Homo sapiens: one gene and its partner. The protein of the gene in region 2 purifies or fractionates together with the protein of the main gene of each other region. This does not show direct contact. Each region holds a gene or a part of one and is shown on either strand. Other genes may lie near its edges.

What was found. The genes of interacting proteins can lie anywhere in the genome.
Region 1: the proteins of SLC17A2 (region 2) and ATP11C purify together in Homo sapiens (affinity purification with mass spectrometry; 2 studies listed by BioGRID and IntAct, with this or other methods). This does not show direct contact.

What each region holds. Positions count from the first base shown.
Region 1 is NC_000023.11:139,782,973-139,786,626, forward strand, and holds part of ATP11C (phospholipid-transporting ATPase IG), read right to left. Parts: intron 2,328-3,654; coding exon 2,254-2,327; intron 296-2,253; coding exon 192-295; intron 1-191. UniProt on the Homo sapiens protein: Catalytic component of a P4-ATPase flippase complex which catalyzes the hydrolysis of ATP coupled to the transport of aminophospholipids, phosphatidylserines (PS) and phosphatidylethanolamines (PE), from the outer to the inner leaflet of the plasma membrane.
Region 2 is NC_000006.12:25,928,534-25,932,287, reverse strand, and holds the start of SLC17A2 (sodium-dependent phosphate transport protein 3), read left to right. Parts: upstream 1-1,596; 5' UTR 1,597-2,011; intron 2,012-3,754. UniProt on the Homo sapiens protein: Acts as a membrane potential-dependent organic anion transporter, the transport requires a low concentration of chloride ions. Mediates chloride-dependent transport of urate. Can actively transport inorganic phosphate into cells via Na(+) cotransport.

The DNA of each region.
Region 1 (3,654 bases), on a different chromosome or scaffold from region 2:
ACTTGCTCCAGGAAAATGTTTTATATTAAGATAAAAAAAAGTAATATTATCAAATCCCCAAATACAAAACATAGACCACAAAAATAAGCTAAAATGTATTTAAACTGTCATTTAAACAGAAATCCAATAAACATAGTCATTTTCAACATTTCTCTGCTTACTTATTGGTGGGGGAAGGAGTATAGGCTCACCATTGCATTACGTTCCACATGGACTTTAGTTAACTCAATTTCATGATTTTGCACTCTGGGAAAAACTGCCGAGTCTGCTCCTTTACAAAAGAGAAGTATGTCTCCTAAAATAAAGAACCATAGTACTTGACTTAGAATTTTAAGGCTGGTATTGTGGTTTTAGTAAGAGTAACTTTTAAAGCGGTCTCTCTCACCCAAGTGTTGTATATTCTGAGCACACCTTGCAATACTCACCTAAATGGAATGAGAAATCTTGGCCTTCAGTCTGTCAGAAAGGCATGTACCACCTCTTCAAGGTCATTATGAACACAATTAATAAGCCAGAGTTTACAATAGGCACCTCTGTTAAAATATACTTCCTCCCACCAATTCATGGAGGGCTGGGCTTGTGTCAAGGAGCTGCATCTGAATTTCTTCTGAAAATGTATGCCAGGTGCAGTGGCTCATGCCTGTAATCCCAGCATTGTGGGAGGCTGAAGTGGGAGGATCACTTAAGCTCAGGAGTTCAAGACCAGCCTGGGCAACACAGGGAGACCCTGACTCTACTAAAAATTAAAAAATTAGCCAGGCATGGTGGTACACACCTATAGACCCAACTACGCTGGATGCTGAGGTGGAAGGATTGCTTGAGCCCAGGATGTCAAGGCTGCAGTGAGCTATAATCTTGCCACTCCAGCCTAGATGACAGAGTAATACCGTGTCTTAAAAAAAAAAAAATGCAGTGAAGCCATGGCCTAGAGCACACATATGGCATCTACAGATGTCAAGAAGAAAGCTCAAGCTCAAACAAGCTGAAATAATTTTGAATAAACTATATTAACTAGCTTCTAAAACAATGGCTTGATAGTTTTTACTGATGAGAATAGCTTTGTAGAATGCTGGTATAATTGCAGCTTTAGATCACTTCACACACCCAGGAAATATTCACAGTTGTGCACTAAGACAGACACTTTATCCTTATAAGGGAAACAACCGAGGTCAACAAATTAAAAAGTGTAGCTCTGAGGTCAATGACCTTTGTAGACCAGTTCCACAGACATTTCACCATTTGCTGTAGAACATGTGGACATGCACACATAAGAATAGCAAGTATTTGAAATGTTGTGTTTTTTTTTTCATTTATTCTTACACATCCAAAGTGTATTTTAAAATTCACAAAACAAACTCCATGGTCACTTATTAAAATCAATTTCATGACTTTGCAATCACACCACAAAGTATGAATTAAGTGGGATATGTTCCCCCAAGGATCTGTCTGTATCCTCCCATTCTGACATTAAGGAATTTAGAAAATTTAATAGTAAAACGTAAATTACTGGGAAATAAATCAAAAATTTTTAGAAAACAAACCACCTCGGCACACCACACACACACGTATCTGAGAGCCTTCGAATAAAGCAGGATTGCTCGCCCATGGGTCTTGCAGAATCTGAGCAGAAGGCAAACCACCATGGTGCCTCCAAAGACATGAGGGAGCCCAGGATTACAGTACCAGTTCCCCTGCAAAGGGCAAGCTTTACTCTGCTCAACAAAGAACCTGAGCTCTGGAGTGAAACTGCAATGCCATTTCCCAGAAACCAGGCCCTTAGTCCTCTCTACCTCACCTGTTTCCAGGGAGTGTCAAGCAGTAGGGGAACCAGGAAGGTCAGTGAGGGATAACAAGCAACTCCCTATACTCAAGGATTCTGCTGCTAGTAATCCCAAACCATCCAACTATGCTGGGTGGCTGCATGTAAACATTACTGGTAGACTGGTCAGTACCCTGAACCATATAAAAGTCATCCTTTCAGTTCCTGTTCGAACACCCAAGGCAGAGGGATATGGTTCTGCTACCAAGAAAAGGCACACCCTGTCATAACAAGGGTTCTGTCACTAACAATTTGGTAAACAGAACATCTGTGCTTAAAAAAATACATGAAAGCATATGCAAAAGCTACTGCTTTGCATGACTTTCACTAATCCTACACTACTACATGAAATGATTCTCTTTCCTGAAAGAGTGAATCAACCAATAAGCCTACAAATCAACAAAGAGAAAAATTCAAGCTTTTCAGACATGTACCTTCTTGAGTCTTCACAATTACACTCATACGTCGCCGGACAGCATCAAAGTTTAAGGTGTGAAGAAGTTCATATCTTTAAGAGAAATGAGCAAAGTAAAAAACCTAGAATATACTGAGAAAAATAAAGCACAACAGAAATATGTTAAGATATTTAAACATCTTAAATCAACAGATAGCACTGGTTGTGTGCACAACTGGTACTTTCCTTTGTCTCAGAATTTCTCTGAACATAGAACATGCTGTCAGAGGACACCAGTGTTAGTTAAGGGGTATTTATAGCCCCTCAGTATATTACTTAAAATGGTAAGGAGAATGACCACATAAAAATGGAAGATAAAGAGCTGTCCCACCAAGCCATATTTGGAGGGGTCTAGAAACAGTCCCACTCTGCCAATTATTTTAGCAGCATTTATGTATGGAGTGCCAGGCACAGTGCTAGGTGCTGGGGAATAGAGGTGAATCTGCCTGAGTCCCTTCCCTTATGCGGGTCACCATATGATAAGGGAGACAGAGCATAATGAGATAACTACCCTTCTAGTTTCTCAAATACTGTAATAAAGGCACTTACAGGGAAGATATAAGAACACAGAAGGAAGTCATCTGAAAGGAGGTTTCCTGGAAGAGGACATGCCTGAGCTGGGTTCTGCAAGGGTAATATGATGAAGAAAGGGGGCCATGGCATTCTGAGTAGAGGGAATGAGCACGGCAGCATGAGAGCACATGGCCCATGGAAGACTTTAAGTAGTTCACCAATGCCCAAAAAACTCATCAATAGGGGAATAGTAAGAGATAAAGCAAGAAAGGTAAGCAGGGGCTGGAAACACATCTTTGTGAGCCATTTCTGGAATTTGGGATTGTATTGTAAGAGCAAAAGAAAGCCAATAAAAGGGTTTAAACAGTGGAATGACATGATGAGACTGGTCAAATGTGTGTGTGGATGGCTGAACTAATCAATGGAGAGACACAGAAGAGTTAAAATAAGAGTTGGTTATTAGAAAAAGTGAGAGGAAATATTTCCTTGAAAATAAACAACTAGTATTTTTTAAAAAAAGTATTTACTACATAGCTTGTTTTGGTGGGAGTGAGGGGGTCATTAGTCTTGCGGGAGTATATGTATAAGACATCTAACATGGCATCTGGTTTGCTGTTGGCCAGATGTGGGCACTGTTGCAGATGGGCTAGAATCTAAACTCTGACAATGACCCTGGGTCCCTGTCAGTCAGACCAAGAACCTTCCTCTGGGCTTCTATGAATCTCTCTCCAAAAGGGTGCATTACCCAAGTACCTGTAAACATATTACAGGTTTCTGAGATGGGTCTCAGGAGATCCTAGGGGCCAGAATGAAAGTCAGATAACATAATTATATTTCAAGTTCAGATGAGGAAATTCAAATTAATCAC
Region 2 (3,754 bases):
AGGGCTCAAGCAATCCTCCTGAGTAGCTGGGACTATAGGCATGTGCCACAACATCAAGCTAATTTTTGCATTTTTTTGTGGAGACGGGATCTCCCTATGTTGCTAAGGCTGGTCTTGGATTCCTGGGCTTATGCGATTCTCCTGCCTCAGCCTCCCAAAGTCCTGGGATTACAGGCATGAGCCACTGCCCCTGGCCATTATAACTATTTTCATTGGCTTATCAGGCACATGATAACTATAATAAATCAATAACCAGAATTTTTAAATAAAGAAAGGAAGGAATTGTTTCAACTCTTCCTGCTACCCCTCTATCCCTCAAAAGGGTAGGCTGAATGTTGTCCTCCAAAGATATCCATGTCCTAATCCCCAGAACCTGTAAATATATTACCTTATATGACAAAAGGGACTTTACATGTTTAATAAGTTAAGAATTTTGAGATGGGCAGATTTTCCTGAATTTTGCAGATGGGCCCTAGTGTAATCACAAGGGTCCTTATAAGAGACAGGCAGAAGAGTCAGAATAAGAGAAAAATACTTCAAGATGTTACACTGCTGGCTTTAAGGTGGAGGAAAGGCCAAGAGCCAAAAAATGCAGTGGTCACTACAAGCTGAAAAGAAAAAGAAATGGATTTTCCCCTAAAGCCTCTGGAGGGGGCACAACCTTGCCAATACCTTGATTTTGGCTCAGTGAAACCCATTTTGGACTTCTGACCTTTAGAATTGTAAATAAATAAATAATTTTGTGTTGTTTCAAGCCATCACAGTTGTGGTAATTTACTACAACAGCAATAAAATAGAATTAAATACAGAGATCTGAGGAGTTGAGTAGGATAAGCCTACTCCAGCAGGTTATTTCGGGAGTATGGTGAGACTCACTAGGATGGCGGAACTCAATTAAGGAAGTCTGAAGCTGATAAGCCAGAGAGGGAAGGCTCTCATTTCATTTTATAAGGGTTGCGTCACACTAGGAAGATCCAATAGCAACCACAGTCTCAAAATTAATGATTACAAATAGGACACAATTCCAAGAGTCGGGAGCCAAGCAGAAAATGGATTAGGGAAGACATGGATGATATGAAACAGGAAGGAGGGGTACAAGGCAGCTTCCTGGGAAGTTGCCAGGGCAGTCACAGTTCACATTCATTAGGCTGTGGGCACCAAATGCATATGGAAAATCTAGCTGACTTAACTGAACTCCTGAAGAGGAATGAACACCTCATTTATTGAGGAGCTACTACCAATTAGAATATGTATTTCATTTGTTCAATAACCCCATGAGTACAGTAACACAATCCTTGCTTTACTAAAGCGGAAGCCAATTCAAAGAGGTTCAGTGACTTGTCCAAGCTCAGGGAAAACACTAGGAAGTGAATATGGGTCTGACTCCATCACTGATTTCAGGAGCCCTGCCCTTTCCTCCACACCATGCCCCCTTGCTTTCAGAAAAAAAGGCTTGTTGACTGAATGGTTGTATGCACAGTTCAAAGCAGAAACACACGATGACATCTTTTGAGATACTCTAACAGTGAGAACTTGAAAATGAAGTTAAAAATTAAGCGGCAAAACCAAGCCGAGGCTTTCTGAGAAAGTGGGGCCAAACCTGTTGCCGTCTGACTGCCACGTGGCTCACTATTTATCCCTGTAAAAATCTGCAAAAGTATTTGAAAGGGAAGAAGGGACAGAAAACTCCCTCCTTTTCCAAGTTAGCCTTATAGTCTAGGGCTTAAAATACTGGTTTAATGGTGAAGGTAAGTGCTTTTCTTCTTTTTGGGTAGAAGGATTATTACTAACTTACCAAAGGTCCATTAAGGGGAGGGAACAGTTTTAGGAGAAGTCAGAGAAAAGACATTAACAGCAACATAAGGATCTCCATCTGGTAATATTGCCTAATTCCAAAATGAAGAGACTCTCTGAAAAAGATAACTGATTCAATGAAGACCCTAGGGCAAGGCTTGAGAAGCCACTGGTACCAATGGACACTGTGGACAATGGTCATTTCTCCAAGGACGCTGTGAGTATTAACTGTGATGCTGTGATTAGTCAGACTGGGATTGGCTGTGGAATGAAATACTGATCAGAACTGACAAGATTTGTGTTTGGGACTGTGGCTAACGAGTCTTTTCAGACTTCTATATGAATTTGAAATGGTCTCTCAGGAAAAGGAGAACATGGCCGGGCCTGGTGGCTCACGCCTGTAATCCCAGCACTTTGGCAGGCTGAGGCGGGCAGATCACTTGAGGTCAGGAGTTTGAGACCAGCCTGGCCAACATGGTGAAACCCTGTCTCCACTAAAAATACAAAAATTAGCAGGGCGTAGCGGCGCGTGCACCTATGCGCATGCATAGTGCGCGTGCCAGCTATTCAGAAGGCTGAGGCAGGAGAATTGCTTGAACCCAGGACGTAGAGGTTGCAGTAGTTGAGATCATACCACTGCACTCCAGCCTAGGTGACAGAGTAAGACTCTGTCTCAAAAAAATAATAATAATAAAAGAAAAGGAGAACATGACCAAAGTTATGAATAAGACTGAAGGCAAGAAAATTGTACGCTTGTAGAGATCACCTAGCTTGTTGCCCTCATTGTACAGCTAAGAAAAGGCACCCAGGGACATTGTGGTCAGCACCAATTTCTCAGAAAGATAGGCAGATGATGAGAGGGCCCTCAGTTTTTCTAACACTGAAGGAATTGCTTCTATGTTTTCTGGTGAACTCCTCCCCACTCATCTTGAGGATTCCAGGCCAGAAGAATCCACTTTAAAAAAGAAACATTTAAAACCAATTTAACAACCAATCAAAGGCACTTTTATAGAAATACATTTCATTTGCTGTAGGCCTGTATTTATGGATCTGAGAGGGCTAGACTGCCAATATTGTGACTGTTTATTATTATTGCTGTTGCTAGTATCTAGAATATTATACAACATATAACACTTTGCAATTTACGAGGCATGTCTCATACTTTTGTTTTCACTCCAAACTGCCCAGTGAAGTAACATTATCCCAATTCTTCCTATGAAACAGTGAAAGCCCTAAGAGTTTTTGAAACTTTACCTGGTTTACTCAATTTGGGAATGGCAGAGCAGAATTCAGTCCTTGAATATCCTCCCACTGCAGGTTCATGCTCTTTGATCTAGGTGTAACATTTACTCTGAGTAAACTAGGACTCTGGGCTAACAGAGATGAAGCAAGACAGGCTGGATATTAGGAGAATCTAAGAGCAATCTAACGACCATTATAATAAAATCATGAGTTCTAGACTTAAAAAAAGGGAAAAACCTGTTTTTTTGCTTATGCGTATACCATAATATTTACATTATTTATTTTTTTCTCAAATTCAACCTATACTGTGTCAAGTAATTTTTTTTAATATAACATTTTCCTTTAACTTAATTTCAATTCATTTTTCTGTGTCTACTTACAACTTTGGCACTAGAATTCACAATTTTTTTTTAGAGGTATATCTCCTTAAAGGGAAGGGTTCTGACACTGTTACATGTTCTCAATTGTTTGCAAATAGGTTAATAATTATTCCAGTGTCTCTAAGTACATATCAACCATGCCAGTGTTCAGCCTCCATAATTTTATTAGCTTCTGTGCTTATTTTGGAAAAACATTTCCCATTACCATGAAAGACCTCAGTTTAGGATGGTTTGGTATGTTAGCCTGATTTCTGCATTCGTCTCATGCAAAGGAAAATAGGAAACGAAGAACTGAAATTACCTATTGATACAAAATCAAAGTAGCATTTGAAACCATA